Linked DNA regions of Homo sapiens: region 2 is linked to region 1. Evidence: fine-mapped expression QTL. Tissue or cell type: esophagus muscle. Region 1 holds a variant in brackets; the other region holds the start of a gene. All regions are shown on one strand. Distances are from middle to middle.

The links. PIP is the estimated chance that this variant, and not a neighbour inherited with it, causes the effect.
Region 2: GDNF-AS1 starts here. The variant in region 1 is fine-mapped to the expression of GDNF-AS1 in esophagus muscle (GTEx, PIP 0.97).

What each region holds. Positions count from the first base shown.
Region 1 is chr5:37,874,324-37,885,738 of GRCh38, reverse strand. GDNF-AS1 (GDNF antisense RNA 1) reads right to left here. Exons shown (of 4, transcript NR_145476.1): 4 at 9,940-11,038. Among named protein-coding and RNA genes, the nearest start is that of GDNF, 40 kb to the right of the region's middle. The variant T/A (reference allele first, on the strand shown) is at 4,703.
Region 2 is chr5:37,835,460-37,845,018 of GRCh38, reverse strand. It overlaps GDNF-AS1 (GDNF antisense RNA 1), which reads right to left and starts at 5,135. Exons shown (of 4, transcript NR_145476.1): 1 at 4,981-5,135. It overlaps GDNF (glial cell derived neurotrophic factor), which reads left to right and starts at 4,978. Exons shown (of 3, transcript NM_000514.4): 1 at 4,978-5,512. RefSeq lists enhancers at 5,117-6,054, 7,512-7,581, 7,933-8,871.

The DNA.
Region 1 (11,415 bases):
CCCTGTGTAGGTGAACCCTGAATATTCTATGACATCAGCCTTCTTTTAATAACCAAACAAAATGACCCAAGCCCCTGTGTTAGGTCATTCTTGCATTGCTATAAATACCTGAAAGTCAGTAATTTATAAAGAAAAGTTTCAGGCTCACAGTGCTGCAAGCTGTACAGGAAGCATGGTGCCAGCATCTGCTTGGCTTCTAGGGAGCCCTCAGGGAGCTTTTACTCATGGCAGAAGGCAAAGTGGGAGCTTGCACATCACATGGTGAAACCAGGAGCAAGACAGAGAGGGGTGGGGGCAGGTGTCACACACTATTAAATGGCCAGATCTTCTGTGAACTCAGAGCCAGAGCTCACTTATCACCAAGGGGATGGCCCAAGCCATTCATGAGGGATCCACCCCCCTGATCCCAACACCTTCCACCAGGTCCCACCTCCAACATTAGGGATTACATTCAACAGGAGATTAGGGTGGGGACATCCAAACCATAACAACCCCTATCCCATGGGGGTACAGTGCCCTCTTGGAGACTCCTGAGGGAAGGTAAGAGTGGGGAGACATATGGTCTCCTGGGACAGGGAATCTCTTAAAATTGAGTATTAGTTATCAGTGTTCTTCAAGTTGCTATTGTGGCCTCATCTCTTCCAACCTCTTTAGCTGGCTCTTTCCTTTACTCATCTTCTCCCAGTTCTCCAGCCTCTGAATCTCTATTTCTCCCTTCCATCCCCAAACTGCTGAGGGAAAATGGAAATCTTCTGTTACTTTATTATACAAAGACGTTTAAGTCTGAACTCTCCTCTCTCCAGAGGCTTCAGGGCCTCTTTTACTCATCTGCTTAACAGGTTTTCCTTAACAAAGAACTAACATCCTTGGCATGAATTCCATGCTTCCAGTGCACAGTGGAACTGCAACAGTCATTTTTGGTTTGAAATAGCAATTTTTCCTTCCTTGCTACCTAGGCAATTTCCTCTTCTGCCTATAAGCCTTACTTTGATTCCTAAACCATAAGAAACTTCTCTTAGGGCCAGTTCATTTTTCTCAATTATTTATGCATATATATGTATTTTTTCCATAATGTTGTAAAACCACTTCAAACATTACTGAAAAACAAAAAACATGATTCCATCACTCTAACAACCACTTGCATTTTTAAATGCTCCATTCTAGTCTCTGTCCACCCACACATATATTTTAAGGCATCTATGTTTTCCTCTTCTGCTTTTTGATTTTACATGACACGACAAACAACTTCCCATGTCTTCATTGCTATTGCTTTAATAGCTGTATAACATTCCATTGAATTATTGTCCCATAGTTTAGCTACCCATTCTCCATCACAAAAGCAGGGATCTTTGTCTCTCTTATTCAGTGATGTACCCCAAACAGTGGGATACAGTGCCTGGCATATAATAGGACTTCAAAAAATATTTGTTAAATTGACTGAATGAATGAGGCACTTAGATTGTTTCTAATTTCTCATTGCTATAGACAAGATGCAATACACATTTTTAAGCATATAACTTTTTTGGCTTTTTTCCATGATATAAATTCCCAGGACTAGATTAATAAAAACAGCAGCAGCAGCAATGATGGTGATAGCTAACATATATGAGCAGATACAACATGCCAGGCTCTGTGATGAGCACTCTACAACCATTATATCTTTGACTCTTCACAGCATCCCTATGAGAAAAGTACTAATTATCCCCATTTTACAGGTGAAGAAACAAAGAACTGGTTATTTGCCCAAGGTCACACAGTTTGTACAGGGCAAAGATGGCATTTGAATTAAGGCTTATACCAGTCCAGATTCTAAGTTCTTTTTTTTTTGAGATGGAATCTCGCTCTGTCGCCCAGGCTGGAATGCAATGGTGTGATCTCAGCTCACTACAACCTCTGTCTCCCGGATTCAAGTGATTCTCCCACCTCAGCCCCCCAAGTAGCTGGGATTACAGGTGCACACCACCACACCCAGTTAATTTTTTGTATTTTTCATAGAAATGGGGTTTCACCATGTTAGCCAGGATGGTCTCGATCTCCTGACCTTGTGATCCGCCCGCCTCAGCCTCCCAAAGTGCTGGGATTACAGGCGTGAGCCACCATGCCTGGCCTCTGGCTCTAAAATATTAATGGCTCCTGTTGTCCTCAAAGGAGCTCAATCTAGTACAAGCAAGCGAATCACTTGATACCCAAATTCTGATGGCCATCAGTGTAGGGACACAACCTGAGCACAGGCTAATGGCAGAGATAGACTCAAACTCAGCTCCTGCCATAGACAAAGCTCAGCCTGCCTCGTGTTGGCCTCCCAAGCCCCAGAAAGACACTCTTTCTGAGAAACAAAACCAGGCTTCCATGATCTGACCTAAAGTGCTAATCCTTGAAGAGATTACCTTTACGCATGATATAGCAACCATTTGCTTTTTCACTGCAATAGAGGGCATCTAAATATTTCTTATTCTTGGCCTTTGATCAATGGTTTTGTATTTATATTTGAGATGATCTCAAAACTTATAAGAATAAAATAAAACCATGTTGCAAAGTGCGGAGCAAAAAAGAGCTTGAAAATAGCCTAAGACCTTCCTCAGTCCTCCTTCCTTCCTCCCTCTCTTCATCCTACAACGAATATATCCAGACTTTGGGGTGGGGTACCAATTGCATAAGACCCCAGGGTATCTGTGCATGCACATCAGAAGTAAAGTACTCCAGGAATTCCTAAAAATTACTTCCCTAGCATCTCATTTGTGACCACGGACAAAAATAATGAGAATGGAAAACATCCTTGGCCAGGGAAGTCAGCTGTTTCTGTTCCCTGATTTTGAATCTGTGAGCAAAGCTTTGCTGTCTCGTCTGGAATCAGAAAGGTCAGTTTAAGGTTAAGCCCAAGTGAACGGTCCATCATGAAGTAAACACAGCACAACCCAGGGCTATGTGCAATGTTATTCTTTCACCTTCTTCCTGGAATTTCAGAGGTTGTACAAATGGAACACTAAAGTGAACAAAATAATGTAACAGTGCAAAACAATGTCAGTGGAGAAATGTTTACTTGAGGGTTCAAAAAAGAAACAAAACATACTTTAACTATGAATGTGCCTATCTCTCCTCCCAGCTCCCTAAGTCCCTCTTTCCTCAAAAGAAAAAAATTATCCTTTCTTTCTTTCTACCAGACTGTGTTGTTTCCAAAACCCTTTCTTTCTCCCTCTCTTTCCTAAATACACAAAGAGAAAGAAACAGGACAGTAGAAGTGGATGGGAAAGCTGAAAACTCAGCAAACCCAGTGGTTTTCAAACTTTTTTAAACCAAAAAATATGATTATGGACAAAACTTATTTGTAAGCTGAATTAGACAGCTATAGCTGTGTAACAAAACACAACAGCTTATGGCAGCATGTGTTTTTGTGCTAACAGATCAACAGGTTGACTATAAGTGGATCTAGGCTGGACTCGGCTCTGTTTCAGGCTACAGGTTGGGTTTAGGTCTGTTCTACACCCCTCTTCTTCTCCTTGGACCAGTGGCTCCCTGCAGCATATTCTCACAGCAAACAGAAGAGTACAAGAGGTAAGCCAAACCATGCAAGTACATTTAAAGCCTCTATTCACATCACATCCTCCCACATTTCATTGGCCAAAGTTAGTCATATAGCCAAGCCCAAAGTCAGTAGAACAGGGGAGTTACGGTCTGCTCCAAGAGGAAGAAGGAAGGGAGTGATTTTTATTGCTGACCAATAATCCAATCTCTCATAGAAACCAAATATATAACACAGAATAAGTGGCTTTTTGCTAGTTGAATGAGGGATGAAGGCCCTCTAGACACATGCTCTTCCCCATCCCCAAATTCCCAATGAGTCCTCTGGCAATCCGGCAATCCCCCAGGGCATCAAAGAACACAGCATGAAATGCAAGGCAACCCTCCCATTTTACAGATAAGAAAACTGAGGTGCAAATCATCCTAATAACTCATCTACTATCTGAAAAGTACCAGGTGTAGGGCCACAAGTAAGGAGATCCTTTCTATGCTTTTCCGAATGTAATGACAACTGGTCATTTTCCAGTCTCTAGGCATAGTTACAGGGATTATAATGGATAAAGAGTTTACAGTTTGTGTAAATTGCTTGCAGCTGGAGAAAATGTTCACAAACCAGGTAGCATAGTAAATAAAGAAAAGGAGGAAGTGAAGAATACCATTCTGACTACTGACCGAATCTCAAACTATTCATTTCACAGTAAATAAGTGAGAACTAACTACTTCAGTCCCTGCCACCCAACCATGATTCCATGTAAGTTACAGCAGTGACCGACAAAATAGGAGAGAACACAGTTGAGTTAAATTCTAAGTGTATATCTGATGAAGAAAATTGTCAAAAGAAAGAGTAAGGATGGGATTGATTGTATTTCTATCTGTGGATAAATGAAGGCTTTAGAAGCCAGAGAACCGGGAAAAGGGCAGAAACTGTTGCAAAGTGGCACTTTGTCAGCACTAGAGGCACTAGGGGAGCTCCCTGGTCTAAGGAGTTCAGCCACCAGGGATACCTGAGAAGTCCAGCTGGATTATGTAGCAGGCAGATGTTAGAAACAGGGAGTAGGGTCAACACCTTGAAAGACAGCCACTTCAAGAGACACTAGAGTGAGACTAGGGAAATACTGGGGTCCCAAAGACGGCTAAATGTTTCAGCCTTACTCAGCCCATGATTCCAAAGTCAAGGATTGGT[T/A]GTACAGAGGGTCCCTTTCAGTGGTTAGAGGTTAGAAGGGAGACCAACGCACTCCAGCATCTGGGGATGAGATGAAATGGCGAGGCTATTCCCTGACTTGAGAGTGCCAAGGCCTTCCTTGTCCAGTTCCCTGGCATGGCCCTCAGCTCAGCTCTTGTCCCCCTTGCCTCTCCAGGCTTGAAATGTCAGAGCAAGTAGACTGCACAGGCCACTACAGGTGCTGAAGCTTTTAACCCATCCAATCCACATGGGGACCCCTCGGCAGTGACTTGTGCTGTGCCACCAGAACTAAGCAGGAACCACATTTCCCAAAGTTCCTTCCTCTATGGTTCCAGATTAAAGCTGGCAACAAGAGAAATCTGTGAGAAGATTGGAAGGCAGAAGGGAAGCAGTAGCCATTCCACTCAGGAGGTTTAATTAGGGACCCGGCGCAGCAGCAGCTCACATATATCTCAGACCTGCTGCCTCACCTTGATGGAGCAGGGCTCCAGTACCTCCGGCTCCCTGGGTCTCCTCCAGCCCAGAGTCCTGACCCAGGTGCATGTCCAGGCCTGAGATGAGAGGCATTGGCTTTTCCTGCAGGTCACTGTGTTACCACTGCAGGTGGTGAGAGTCAGAGACATGGTCCAGTTTGTTCTTGCTCTCCCCTTTCCATCCACTTTCTGTCCCATCTGTAAGCCCTGCTGACCCAAAGAAACGTCAAGCCCAACACCAGATACAGAGGCAACAGCCTTGCCTAGACTTTTTTACTAGTTTTCATAATGGGTAAGTTTAATCCCTATGATTAATCCCTTATTCCGTGTCATACAGAGTAGCTCTGATTTCCTGATCAAATGCTAACTGATACAACCAGCTACTCCCATGGCCTTAGCAAATGCAAAGACCCTCTGTCAATGCTTCCCATGTGGTTCCTCTGATCAGAATACTGTTGGTTCCTCCAGCTTTCTTCTTTCTTGACTGAACTTTTACCACTAAACCACTGCCACCATCACCACCACCACCACAACTACCACCACCACCAAATCATTATCATCATTACTACAACCACCTCCACTGTCATGTTCACCACCATCAAACCACCATCATTAACACCATCATTACCATCATCACTACCATTACTGCTATCACCAGTATCATCAACACCACCATCACAGTCACCATTACAACTACCACCACCATCATCACCACCACCCCTATCACTATAGCCATCACCTGCCACGAAAATCAGCACTACCACCACATCAACACCCTCACCGCAACACCGCCATTACCATTATCATCATTCTCATTATCACCATCACTCCACCACCGTCATTCTCACCAGGCCACCACTACCACACCATCACCCCTCCTTTACCTCTTTTCATCTTCACAGCAGTCTCATCCAGGTCAGATTATTCCTAGTTTACAAATGAGTAGAGGTTAAGTAACTTGTCAGCAATCAAGGAGAGAGTTAAACCCAGGTCCAACCTCAAATTCCCTGTTCTTTCACTACACTACACAGCCTCCAAAACTATGTTTGACAGAGCAAAGGGCAGTCAATGGTTAATGGAAAAAAGGACTTAAAGCAGCAGAATTGTGCTGATCAAGAAAGGAAGGGCAGAGGAATAGTAGCTAGAAGGCATAAGGCAGGCAAAGAAGGGATGGATTCAGACAAGATCCCCCAGAGCAGAGGGGCAGAAGGGGGCTCCACGTGGGTGGGAGTACTGACCCAAAGCCTGTGTCTAGGATTCAGAGAGGAAGTGGCCTTGCTCCTGCAGACCTCAAGGCAAGCCCCAGAGGAAAGCTCTCCCACTGCATGAAGGGCAGAAATCAGAGTCCGAGGGGCCAGTGAGTTAAAAGGGGCGAGTCAGAAACGACCCAGGGAAGCACCTACAATGCCACTGAATGCCTTAGCCAGGGTGGTTCTCAGTCCTGGCTGCGCAATAGAAGCAGCTGGGGAGTTAAAAAATGTACTAATACCGAAGCCCCACACTAACATTTCTATTATTTTTGAAATGCTTCTCAATTCATTCTAATGTGCAGGAAGGGTTGAGAAGCAATGCATTAACCCAACAACACTCTGGAATCATGCTTTCCTTCCACCTGAGCCCTCAGAATTCCCTCACACTCTAGTATAAACTAGCTGGGCTCTTAAACCAAGTGTCTCCAGGTGCTAGACAGTGGTAAAATAGAAGAGAGAAACGGATCCTTCCTAGGATAGGGAAAAGATGAGTCTAATTTTAGATCAAGGAATCTACCCTTTTATTTTGGGGTCACAAAACTAGGTAATTAATCCATAGGTTGAAACAATAAGAAAAAGAAGGTAAGCTGAAGGAGACCCTCACTGTTTGGTAAGGGGCTATTCCTCTCCCCAGCCTGGAGGTGAATTTGCCTTATTATCTACTGTATTCATATACTTAATAGAACAAGATAAATTATAAACAACAAGAGCCACTGTTAGCATTTGCTGAACACTTATTGTGTGCCGGGGACTGGGTTAAATCTTTTAATTCTCAAGGTAACCCTATGTGGTGGATGCTAAGATATTCCTCATTACACAGATGAAGAAACAAAAGCCCAGGGAAGCTGAAGAACTTGCCCAAGCTCACATCAGCAGCAGAGCTGGGATATGCACAGGTATATGCCTCCAGGGTCCACACTTTAACTCCACACCACACAGCATCCCAATCGCCATGGGTTCTGGGATAAGTATTACTGTCCCCATTTTACAGGTGGGGAGACTGAGGCTGCTGCATCTTACTAACACAGCCTGGATTTGGAACCTCCATAAGTAGAATATACCAGAAGAGCTGAGCAGCAGTTTGACCTACAGGCAGAGAGGTTTCTAAATGCCCAGTTCTTCCCCTATACCACCCCACCCTTTATGCTCAGAGGCTACACAGAAATCACATGGCATGACCTTTCAAAATAACTGCATTTTTAAAAATCAACTCAAGACCCAAACCAGTATTGGTATGTGAGCCGAATCTGAAAATGACACGTAAATAGATGGAAAGGGCAAATCCAACCGCGCTGTACGTTGAGCAAAACATCTCAAATTATTTGTTTCAAATATTTTGCAATTAGCAAGACCCAAACCACACTTTTCCAAGCATTCCCTTCTCCACCCCACCCCACACTACCCAGTTTTACATTGTAAGCCCATGTGTATTTCCCAAAAAATGTAATCCATATGTCTCTGAGCCGTTTACACTTAACTCATCAAATTGTTGTTTGCTAAGAGTTGTCTGCTGCCCATGAAGCCTTCTGAGACTGTCTGTGAGGCCTTCAAAAGCCCCTTTCTGCTTCTTTTCTTAGAAACAGGAAGCTACATTTAGCCAAGGGCAAATGAAATTGAACATGTTGGCACTGGGAGGGAAGAGGTTCCAGGGCCAAAAAGTTTGTTCTTGTTCTCAACATGGCAGAATATCAAGGAAGGTCTCTCTGAGGCGGTATTTCAAAGCCCAGAAAACCTGCTCTCGGTGGAATACCAAGCTCAAGATTGAGTTCAATTTTGTTTTCAGCCCTGTTCACCGTCCCTCTATATGCCAAGGTCCCTACAATGGTTCAAGATTGTCACAGGGAGCAAGCAACAAATCCGTGACCTGCTGGTGAGACCGATGATATCAACTGCTGTGGTAGAAGTAATACTGGCTTTCCACCTCAGCAGCTAAAGGTCTTGTAAGTTCTGCTTTTCTATCTGCCTTTTAAAAAAGCACGCACGTATATAGACAACAAACCAAACACTTTTCAAAACAAACCATTCCATCTGATACAGTTTAACTCATCCATGTTTTTTGGCTTTAGCAAAAGGTTTTAGTTTAGTTTTATTTTTTTTAATTGCTTAAGTTCAGCTAACTTATATCCCTTGGGAAAACTGATCTATGTAAATGTGATTTAACTAAAGGGGTTTGAGCCACTCACATGTGTTTTACATTTTCTAATCATCCTGAGCTCTGTACGTGGTGAGCAGACTGAAAAATGATGGTGGTCTCATTTCAACATCAATTTTTATCCATTCTATCTCCCAAGAATGCCAAATGATGGCTGGAGAGAATCTCACTTCCTGTTTCCAGACAATCAGAAGCTGGTATTTATGAAAACTTGGAAGTTTGTGAAGTCGATTGCATGGCTAGAAGATCCAAAGGAAGATGGCAATTCTTTAAGATATCTACATTCATTAAATTGGCTAAAACTTTAGAAAAGATTCCTTTTAAATATTATATTTCCCTGATTAAATTAAGTTCAACAAACATTTAAGATGCCTACTGTATTCGGCATTGTTGCATAACAAATTACCACAACCTTACCAGCTTAAAATAATATACATTTGTTATCTCAGTTTCCACAAGTCAGGAGTCCAGGCATGGCTGAAGCAGGTCCTCTGCTCAGCTGTTCATATGTTACAGTTAAGGTGTTCGTCTGGAGGCTTGACCATGGAAAATATCCACTTCCAAGCTCATTTGGATTGTTGGTAGAATTCATTTCCTTGTGGCTATGTGGCTGAACCACCTGTTTTCTTGCTAGCCAGTGGCTGGGAACTGCTGCCAACTCCTAGAGGCCACCCTCAGGACCTTGCCACATGGGCCCCTCCATAGGCCCCCTTAAAACACAGCTGCTTACTGCTTCAAAGCCAGCAGTGGACTGTCCTCCTTCAGGAAAGGCCCAGTCCTCTTTTAAGGGCTTTTCCCTGATTAAGGTAGGGCCATCCAGTATAATCTCCTTTGTGAGTAACTCAATATCAACTCATCTGGGACCTTAATTACATCTGCAGAATTCCTTCACCTTAGCCATATAATGTAATCTAATCAGAGAGTGACAGCCATCATATTCACAGGTCCCATTCATATTTGTGACACCCTGTCTCAAATTTAAAAAAAAAGAAAAGAAATGAAAAAGAGAGAAAGAGAGAAGGAGCAAAGGAAGGAAGGGAGGGAGGGAGAGAGGGAGGGAGGGAGAGAGGGAGGGAGGGAGGAAGTAGGGAAGGAAGGAGGGAAGGAAAGAAAAAGAAAGAAAGAAAGCTCACTCACAGCCTAACAAGGGCAGTGGATATGCAATAATAACTATTCCATGAGATATGTTCTATAATAGAGGTACATTTAACGTTCAGAAATAGCACAAAAGTAGTAACATAAACACTGAGCTTTGTAACATAAATAGGAGTTCACCAGGGAGGCAAGCATGAGGAAGATGGAGGGTGGGTTAAGTAGGATTGGCTCAAAACAGGTATAGTGTGATTAACAAATTACTAGTAATTTGATTTTGCTAAGATTTCAGCAAATGTGCTGAGCATTTTTATTTGCTGTATCTTGACTTGTCTTCCTTTTTAAAACAAAGAAAGAAAAGATTTCTAGTTGTCCTAAAGACTGGTCAATGGACCTCACGTATGTGTGTGAAAATGTTGTCCATGACTCATCCCCTTACAACATGATGACAACACTGAGGGGAAAGATGCATAGTCAGTTAATGCTCCAGGCCTATGAGAAAATGTACTCCCAGTTTCCTTCTGAATGTGTGGACCTTTTACAATGAGAAGCTTCCCTTGAAATAATGTTTCATTCCAGAATGGTAGAAATGAGTCCATACCTACAGACATAACAACAGCAAAAGCTACAGCAGTTGCAGAATTCCTGAGCATGAAGAACAGCAACCAAAGTTGGATGAAGACAGGGAAATCACAGTGCCTGTGGTGACACATGCTGAGAGCTGCACCCCACCGGGTGGTGCTTTTGTAACTCGCAACAAGATTCACTTTTGAAGCTTGAAGTCTTCTGACTCTTCTACCACAATATGTAAATACAGGCCAGAAAGAAAATGCCTCTAAAAATTACAGTAGCCTTCATGTCAACTCCAAAATACCTCTTTAGCCATGAGGAAGATGACGACATTGCAAATGAAAATGCAACCATCTTGCATGCGGTTCAGCTCTGAGTGTTCCACTCCCACTGCCAACAGTCTGATGTGGGATTGTTTCTGGTTACGCAGAGTTAGTTAACCTCCCTGTGGCCTTCCTGACAAGCCATATGGATAGGAACTACAAAGTACTGGGAGACCCGGATTCCAGTCTCAGTTCAATTCGTTCTTTCATTTATCCAGAATTGTTGGAGGACAAGTGAGTTTTCCACTTATTGGATAAATAAGTTTTCCAAACAACTGAAAATTTTGGCTAGCCACAAGATTTTTGCACTTTTATTGTTTAAATAGGGGAAATTCTCCTAAGATATGGAATATATTAAAAGCATGGGCCCTGGACCCTGGATGCCTGGGTTTGAATCTCAGCTCCAACACGTGCTTGCAGTGTGATGTTGGGCAAAGGGAACTTCTCTCTGCTTCCGGGGATAACGATAGTCCTTGCTTCAGAAAGTAGAAAGAGTAAATAAATTAACCATACAAAACAGAACAGTACCTAGCACATAAAAATTGTTTCAGTAAGTATTATTGTTATTACTATAAACAGAATGACTAATAGAAAACAGGAGGCTTTTCTTCTCAGAGTCATCATTATAACCACTAAGCAAAATATTGCATGTGTATATATGCATATTGTTTACATATATAATATATATGTATAAGTATACAAATATTTTATGTATTTATGTATACACATACTTTATACAACCACACACTCACTAAATATATACACATACATATATATGTATGCATCTATACATGCATATATAAATATATATATATATATACACACACACACACACACTCTCTCTCTAGACGTA
Region 2 (9,559 bases), 40 kb after region 1:
CTTTTGTATGGTCCATGAGCTAAGAATGGTTTTTACATTTAAAAATCAAAAAAGTATTTCATAACATGGAAAAAATTATATTATCATTTACATATCATCTATGGGTGCTCTTGCAACACAAGGCTAGAGTTGAGAAGTTGCAACAGAGACAGTATGCCTGCAAAGCCTAAAATATTTACTATCTTTACAGAAAATGTTTGCTAACCCCAGACCTAAGCCATCAGACCATTTGCATAGTAAGAAAGTCTGCCGCAACACTCTCACCTGATTGAAGTTTTATCTCTGGAAAAGAGAAATTTCACAAAGTAATTTCAAGAGCCAAAAACAAAATTAGTGGACAATGAGACAATTTGATCCTAATGAAAGAAACTGCTGGAAATCACTGATAAATCTCCCTTGCCAATGTCAGGATTGATTTCTTATGAGAAACGATTTACTCCAAAGAATTTGTCACTTCCCACTACTTGCAAAAAGGCCATTACAGTGAATTTTTCCCCTTTCTTTTTTTCTTTTCACTTTTTTTTAAGTGGTCTGAAGGCAAATCTATCTTTCCTTCATGAGTAATAGGATCATTCGTGAAAATGGCTGTTAAAAAGCAAGCAAGCATGGAACAAATCGCAGTCCAATAAAGCTGTGACTTTGAAAAGGAAATTGCTCTGCTTAAGTGATGGATTCTGTTTCAGTCCTCACGACCCAAGTTATGAGGCAGTCCAGGGACCGGGGTCCTGGCCCTCATAGTCAAAGCAGCTGCAAAGCCCCACTGGGAGCTCGCCAAGGACTCTGTGAATGGCCAAAAGCTGACCCACCCACCCCATCACGTCTACAGGCTGCAGCCCTACAGGGCCACAGAGGCTGAGCAAGAATGTGGCAGTACCTAGCATCCAGTCTCCTCCAGCGACCCTTTCAGCCAGCCTGGAATGTCCCCTCACCCCCACCTCCTCTCTGCTTACTTACTCCAATCAAGGGCTAGTTTGAGTTCCATAACCTTATAATACCCTGTATTATTTTTCATCATTTTATGGTTGTGTTTTCTCTTCCCAAGGACTGTAAGATCCTTGGGCACAAATTGCACCGATCATTTAGACAACTTTCAGTTAGAGACTCACAAGAAATCCCAGTGAAGAGGACGATAGCGATGAAATAGGAAATTAGCAGGGCTTCGAACCTTTTTTCTCAAAGAGGAGATGGGAGGCTTGAACAATGTTTGTTCTCTCTGATTCTCAGGCAGGGCTTCCTAGATAAAAAGCTGAGATCTGGGGACAATGTGAGAATCCTTAGCAGTATGTTGCTGTTGTTGCTTTATCAGAGGATGTTCTGCCTATTGAGAGCAGAGTCGGTGCTGCAAATTCTTCCCTTCTGGACTTCGCTGAGGAACAGCTTCAAATCAAACTATTCCGTTTCCTTGAGAACAGAGAAGCTGGAGCCTCGGAGCTGTGGGGCTCCCTACTTTCAGCTTATGGGGGCGTGAGACTGTGACATCAGGCCATCCCCTTGTTCCCAAGACACCAAATGTTTGCTTCCCATCTTAACTCTATTCAAGGCAGTCACTTCAGAAGGAACTTTTGCTGAATTCATCTGTATGCTGTAGCCATGTAAATAAATGTTCTTTCAAAATTAGAAATATTTGCTTTAATTCTAAATTAAATTTAACATTTTCCTTTATATTACTGTTTTAAGATACTTTGTATTTTGAAAGGAATTTAATGTTTTGGAAGAGTCTTAGTCTTAGAACCTATCAAAATAGGGCTTCTTCATTTTGCTTTCAAAAAGAATCATAAGATGATTGCAACCACTGGGAAAAGATAAAGCCAATTCACTAACCTGGGAGCATCTGAAAAATCAACTCCTGAGCTCCACCCTTCAAGAGATTCTGATTTAATTGCCCTGAACAAGGCCTAGGTCTGGGACTTTTTTTTTTTTTTTTTTTTGAGACAGAGTCCCACTGTGTCACCCAGGCTGGAGTACAGTGGTGCAATCACTACTCACTGTAATCTCCACCTCTCAAGTTCAAGCAATTCTCATGCCTCAACCTCCCAAGTAGCTGGGATTACAGGTGCCCACCACCACAACCAGCTAATTTTTCTATTTTTAGTAGAGACTGGGTTTCGCCATGTTGGCCAGGCTGATCTCAAACTCCTGACCCCAAGTGATCCACCCACCTCAGCCTCCCAAAGTGCTGGGATTACGGGTGTGAGCCACCACCACTTCCAGCCTACAGGTCTGGGTATTTTTTGAAATCTCCCCAGTGTTTCACTGGCCATGTGAAAATCAGACTCCAGGACATGAGTCTCATATATACTTCTGTTGGAGTATTTATCACTTTATACCATCAATACTCATGAGCATATCTCCCTCTCTGTAGTGGTAGTTTCTGAAGGGCTGGGAGAGGACTGTCAAAACCCAAAGTGCCTACCATTAACCCACCTCCTTCTGAGGGACCATCCTCTGTGGAGGGAATGTGGGGAGGAACTCTAGGAAGTATCTCAAGCAAAGGTGGCCAGGCTGTGTACTCTGTGATGCCAACAACCTGGACATGAATGATTGGCCCAGGATAGGCACCTGCCCCCAGGTCTGCGGATATACAGGGTGTTTTGCAACCTGTAAGGAGACTGATACAAAGGCTCAGTCCAACTCTCACCCCTGGTGAATCCCTAGCAGGACAAACTAGATCCTTTCACTAAAGGAGTTTAAATGTGAGATCAACTGAGAGCTGAGCAGTTGGTAGCAGGAGCAGAAGCCAAAGGACACCCAGGGGAAAACAGCGAGAGAGGAGCTGAATCACCTTGGCGGCTAAGCCGTTAGTGGGGATCGGCAGATGCCTGCTGCTGAGGGGGCAGCGAGATAACCCAGTCACAGAGCTGTATCCTGAATGACCTTCCAGTTCCTGAACTTCAATCCAGTTTTCATGAGGCCTGGCTGGGTGGCCTTTCCGGAAGGCTTTTCGGAGACACGTGGCGGAATGGTGGAGATTCCGGTCAGCCTTCCTTCCACAGTAAATTCCCATTACTGAGGGTAAACCTCAGTGGTATCTGTTCCTTGCAACCCCCGCCCCCCGCCCAAAAAAAAAGCCCAATCAGCACAATGCCCAGGGCCTAGCACTTTGCCTGGCACACAGCAAGTGCTAGATATTTGCAGGTGCTTGGACGGGCTGATCATCCCCAGCAAAAAGCCCTCTAAAAATAAAGAAATCATTCAGAGTAAGAACATTGATGAGGGTCGTCTTCAAATTCCAAAAACAATGCTAAACGGCAATAAATATATTAAGCTTATTCTGCCCTCTAATTTCTGAATCTAACTACATTTCTACCATAAATCTATCAAAGAGGGAAATGTCATTTTCTGCAGAACTCCAGAGAGCATCCTAATTTCAGCTAAGGTATGTTTTGATGACTCGATTTTCACTTCGCTTAATCTTAAATCACAGCAACGTTAGTAAGAACAATTTTCCTCCCACACTCGCTTCACTGACAAACCTGCAAAGTAGCTGATCTTTGACTTTTAAGAAGTTTAATAATACATGATCTTCCCCCCACACTGCCACACGCATTTCCCCTGCCTATTGTCTGTATCAGCTACTTGAAGAACACATACTCCCCAACAACCGGATGAGTCATAAAATAAGAGGTACATGGACGTAAACTGAGCCTGTTTACACTTTCCCTGGCCCCAGCTAATAAAATAAAAGAGGTCCCACTGAATTCAGGTCCAATGGCTTCCGGAAAACAGGTTTCTGCTTAGCAAAGACATGCCCTATTTAGTACATTATTTTAGAGGTACAGCCAATTCCATGCCCCATGTGAATGAAATGTATTTATGGTTATAGCCATGCACAGGGTGTGTAAGGACTTGCCCTCCTCCTGTCCTCTACAAAAGAAGGCTCAGGCAGCTTCTGGTGGTGAACTAACCAACAAAAGGAATGCCCAGAAGGTCTCACCTCTCCCATCCACAGAGCTCTGGAATGGGGGCCGGGCCCCTGATCGCTGGAAACTCAGCATCCAAGTGGGCGCTTGCTGAAGTTTCCCATCTGCATTTTCGAAAATCTGGATAAAAGCAGGTTTAGCTCAACCTCCCCTAACCCGTTCCTGATAAAGTGATCTTACGCCTCTGGAATTGGGATTTTGAATGTATGTGCCTGCCCCATGTCTGGTATTAGATTACAACAGCATGAAAATGGAGCCTAGGACTGAGGAGCCGGCCAGCCTCAGAAGCCTTCTTCATTGCCTGCCATGTAATACATGATATGCAAAGCCTCTGACTTCAGCCAGCAGATATTTGGAGACCGTGTTGGCCTTAGCATGGGGACTAAACTAATGTGTGTTTAGGTCAGAAAGCGAATCAGAAAAGCCACTGGAGGGCACGTCACGGAGTGAGAGCCCTATAAATTCATCCCCACTCGCAGCGTCCCCTGGCAAATACTCGGCTTCCCTCACCCGGCCGCTCCGCACCTCTCCTTCTCGGTGCTAGAACTCCGGCCGGCAGCTCCTTTTCTCGCCACTGCCTCCTGCCCTGCGGAGAAGCGAGAGGGCGAGACACCCGAGCGGGAAGGCCGGCCTTCGACAGGCGCGAGGAAAGCCCGGCGCTGCCCTGCACCGGCAGAGCGCCACCCTCCCAGTGCGGCGCGCGGGGGCAAAGCCCGGCGCGGGCGCCGCGGTCAAGTTCGGATTGCCCCTTTCGGCTGGCCCGCGCAGAGCGCCGCACATTCCTCTCGATTTTTGATCCACCCGGAGAGGAGAAGGCGCTAGCCCCGCGGCGTCTCCGCGCTCTCAGCGCTCTCCCTGCAGCCCAGGGAGGGGCGCCTCGCGTCGCCCACTCGCACCCCGGCCCCCCGCCTCGGGAACTCCAGGGCCTCCTCGCTGCTCTCCTCTCCTCCCCCACCGCCAGGCCCAGCCGACGCCTCCCGACCCCTCCCTCCCGGGGCCCCGCGCCTCCCCTCCCCCACCCCGGACCCCGGACCCCCAGCCCGGGCTCTAGAAGACCAGCCTGCGCTCCTGGCGCCCTCATGTCTTCACGGGACTCCCCGCGCCGGTTGACGTGGTGTCTCGTTCGGATCTCCAGGCAAGACCTCAGCTCCGGCAGCAGCATCAGACAAACCAGTCTCGTGCTCCCAGGCAGTGCGCCCAGAGGAGGCGCAGAGCGCGGCAGCTGCCGCTGAGCCGCCCGCAGCGCCCCGGGCCCGCGCAGCCCCAGCCAAGAGCGCGACGCGCGCAGCCCTGTCAGCCCCCCACCCAAAGCAGCGGCGGCTGCTCGGACCTCGGCTTCTGGGGGTGCGGGGGCCCGGCGGGAGAGTTGCCGGCAGCCCTCGCCCTGTTGGCGGCGGCGGCGGCGGGAGTCTTGGCCGCCGCCTCCAGCGCGCCCTTGCTGCCCCGCGCGACCCCAGGATTGCGAACTCTTGCCCCTGACCTGTTGGGCGGGGCTCCGCGCTCCAGCCATCAGCCCGGATGGGTCTCCTGGCTGGGACTTGGGGCACCTGGAGTTAATGTCCAACCTAGGGTCTGCGGAGACCCGATCCGAGGTAAGTGAGGGAGCGGGCCGGGGAGCAGGGAGCGGGTGGTGCCTGCGTCGCGGGTGGGTGCGGCCGGCTGAAGGGCGCCCTAGTCAGAGGGGTGCGTCTGGACCCCAGAGCAAACGGTGAGAGTAGAAAGTGGAAAGACTAGAGGGAACCTAAGCTATGCGAGGAGAGAGAAAAGTAGAACCGGAGAGAGGCCGGCCTTTCGGAGGGGCATGTTGCCTTTTCCACGTGGGCAAAGATCTGTGGAGCCCCAGATGCGCCTGGACCCGGAATGCCCAAGAGGGGCAGTTTCCTTCCCCGACTCGGCCAGGTGCTCTTCCGTCAAGTCACAGAACGATTCAGGGCTTGGGTCATCTTCGAACCCACCGCCGTCGAAATGTGTCCTCTCTGGACGTGCAGAGATACTATCATTGCCAAGAGTGCAACTTACTATTGAGCTTGTTTTGATCTGTGCCAAGGAAAAGCGCAGGCCGGGGGAGGGGCTGCTGCAAAGGTGCTGAGAACCTAAAAATGGAGGGCTCACCTCCTCCGGGCGAGGTCTGGCAAAGCTACATTCCTCACCCGGTTGCCTGCACGTTCCTAACGCCCTCCACCCCAACTAACCATCCCCGTCGAGGTTAGGAGAGGGGCTTTCTTGCCAGTCCTGGATTCAAATCTCTGTCTCGAACGTATTCTTGAGACTCCACTAGGCCATTGAGGTTATTATTTTAATGACCCCTTTTTCTCCTGTACTCTGTGCCGCCTTCCAAAAACACCCCACCACCACTGCCACTACTTTACACCACCTCGAGGCTAATTCCGCACTGGTGGTTTGTTTCCTGCCCCAACGAAGAAAAACGAACCCTCTTCGGGCTGGAAACGGACTTTCGCGGGTTCCCGCCAGCTTCCTGGGGCCCAGCTAGTTTCGGCTTTGGTAGAATCCGCCGCCAGGACCCATGTGCGCGCCCCCGGGGGGCTTACCCATCCCAGAGCTCGCGACCCTTCTGCTCATAGGCGGGGACAAAGGCAACTCTTCCGGCCCCTGCTGCGGAGATGTTAGAACGCGCTCGACTCTTGCTCAGTGTTTGGAATATATGCTTAGGTATTTCAAGGAAGAGATGTTTCTTCCAACCTCATTCACGCACCCAGTCCCGCAAAGCCGTCAAAGCCGGCCTCGACCAAACTCGTACTGTTTCGCTGCGCCTTCGCTTTGTCAGGGAAGGTGGCGCCTTTTCAACAAGTAACAAGTGTCCGATCTCTGGGAAGTCCGCCGTGTCCCTAGCCCTTTCCCGCTAGCAATTCGGGTGCTCTCGGGCCTGGAACCTGGCCCTTTAAACAGACCGCTTTCCCAGTTTGCCTGCGAGAAGTGTCCCAAATTCTTTTTCCTTCCCTCATCTTGGGCCCCGCAGTTATGGGGGGTTGAGGGGAGAATAAGTCCTCTGTCAGTCAAGGACACGAAGCATAGTTAAGAAAAGCAATAGATCTTCCAGCAATTTCTGTCTCTACCTCCCCCCGCCAAAAAAAAAAAAAAAAAAACCGAGTTTATAGCAAACCCGTCTCCCCGCCCCACCGCCTCCTTTTTCTCTCTCTGAGACCTGGATCTTGAAGGCAAAGCCCAAACAAACCTCCCAGCCTGCCAGGCACAAGAAGGTGCGGGGGCACTGACGGCGGGAGCGCTGCCTCCTGCGAATCTGTCACGGTGACGCGTGGAAGGGGTGAGGGATGGTCTGAAAGCAGGTTGCCAAGAAACCCGCTCAGGTGAAGTGGGGAGAGGAAAACCAGCGAGAATGGAGGGGTGGGAGCCTGAAAAGCAGAGATGCCAGTAAGGACCTCCACAGGTTCCCGGGCTAATGGGATTTCGGGAGGCTCGTAGAGGGAGTGGTGGTTCTCCGGTTTTATAACTAAAATGATAACACAGCCTCCGGGCCGCGTGGGCGCGACACGGCTCAGACGGTTTCTGGTGCCCCCTGCTGCCGGGAACTCAGAAGTGCCTCGCGGCGAGCGGCTGCTTCTGCGAGCACTTCTGTGGCTTTCCTGGGCGTCCTTGCCTCCCCAGGCCTGGGGACCCACAGGTGCCGGCGCCCACGGCCTGCTGCTTTTGCCCTGCCGGGACGTGGTGGTCCCGGACCCAGAAGGGGACCAGCTTGCCAGGCACGAGAAATGGTGCGCGGTCACCTGGCAGAGCAGAGCCCCCGTCACTTGAGGAGCAGAGCTTGGTTCTCGCACGTGGCGGCGCGTAAAGCAGTTTGCACCGCGGGCAAAGGCCCATGGTTGAGGAGAAGCGCGTCGGGCAGATGTAGATGTGTTTTGGGAAAGCGATAGAGAGACAAACTGAGAAGCCGAGGGGTGGAGCCCACACGGACTCTAAGAAAAACGTCCTAGTAGACGCTGTGTGTGCCGAGTCCCCCAACCTCCCCCCTTTTCCCCCGCCCAGCAAATACCGAGAACGAAAGAGCCCCTCGGACTGGAGCCGGTCCCGGCGGCGCTCAGAGGGAAGAATGCGCCCTCCCTGTCCCGGGGGAAGAGGGGAGCTCGATCCGGGCGCTGGCGGCGCTCGGCCGAGGGCGGGAACCGCAGCCGGGAGCCTCCTCTGGCGACGCGGGGAGTTTTCCACTGTGTAGTCTTTTGCCAGCTTCGCCACACTTCTAATTGAGGATCTCCACGTCCAATTTAAAAAGCCCTCCGTCGGCCAAGCAGGAAAAAAGGGAAAACCCTCTTAAGACGGAAGGGAAATCTAGTGCCTCTGTGGCTTCCTGCTGGCGGGCACCGCGATTTGGAATGGCGCATTAACCCCGCGCCTCCATGCTCCTCCGGTCGGACCGCCAGCCATTTCGCACGCACCCGGGAGCTGGCACCGGCGGGGGGCTTGAGGGGGGAAGCTCGCGTTCCCCAGGTCCTAGCTGCCAAAGTACCTTTCTGGGCTCATTTTGCATGGCCTGGTGCAGTTTTCCTGTGTCTGCACATCGCGACCCAGAACCTAGCTTTTTCCCGAGTTTGCAAACCAGCCCGCGAGGCAAGAGGCGCTCGGTGCTGCAGGTCACTAGGAGTTTCTAGTCCCTACACCCTCTCGAGCCCAACAGCTGCATAGCGAACAAACAGACGCTCAGGAGATGTAAAATGCATTAGTCTCTGCAGAGGTGGGAGGTGGCGGCCGAATTAAAGGCTTCCCCGGGTTGCCTGCACCGGGACAGGGAGTGGGGTTCCGGGTAGAGATGAGGACTGGAACCCTGGAATGGAGGCGGGGGTGCCTGTGAACTAATGGCTAGGAAAGGCACTGAGGTTTTTGCATTAACCTGGGTTTTGCATTTCCCTCCCGCATGGGAAAAAAAAAATCGAGTTTTTCCTAAGAACCGTTTTATGGAGCCGGTCGAGGGGATAGGATAATCGACTGCACGAATCTCGCAGATTCCGCTTGAGGAGATTCTCTCTAGGTCACTAGTGCCCTGGAGACGAACCCTGGGATTAGGAAGGCACTGGATAACACTGCACCCCAAGATGCCTCGGTTCTTCCCCGTCTCCTCATTGGTTGGAACTCGCCCCCAAATTTACAGCCCCTTTTTCTAACCCACCCCCAGCTGCGTGGCCCTCCTTTGTAGGGGTGTGAGGATTGAGAAGCCAAACAGAGCCCACCTCGGGCTGAAAAGAGCTGAACCCCCTACTCTGCGCCGTACCACGGTCTAGGCCTTCCAGTGCCAGAGCACCTCCAAAGCGTCCGAGACTGGGTACAGTCGTCCAGGCGTGACGGGGGCGCGGGGAGCCAGTGACTCCTCTGGGAGGGGAAGGGATTAGGGCCAGAATCTCTCAAAGGTGCAAAAATCCAGTCAAGAGAGGGTTTTCGGGTATACCACGGAGGATTAAAACTTTCAAGACAAATGCAGTCTTTGCCTAACAGCAATGGTAAAGCATTTACTGAGCTCTTACTACATGTTCCGCTAGAGCTTGTCATGCGTGATTTAATGTTCATAACTTTAAGAGGTGGGAGGAGTATTTTAAATCGAATCAGTGCTTTGGGAAGTTAAGTAACTTAAACCAGATATCCCATACAGGCCAAAAGTCTCCAAGTCCCTGCTA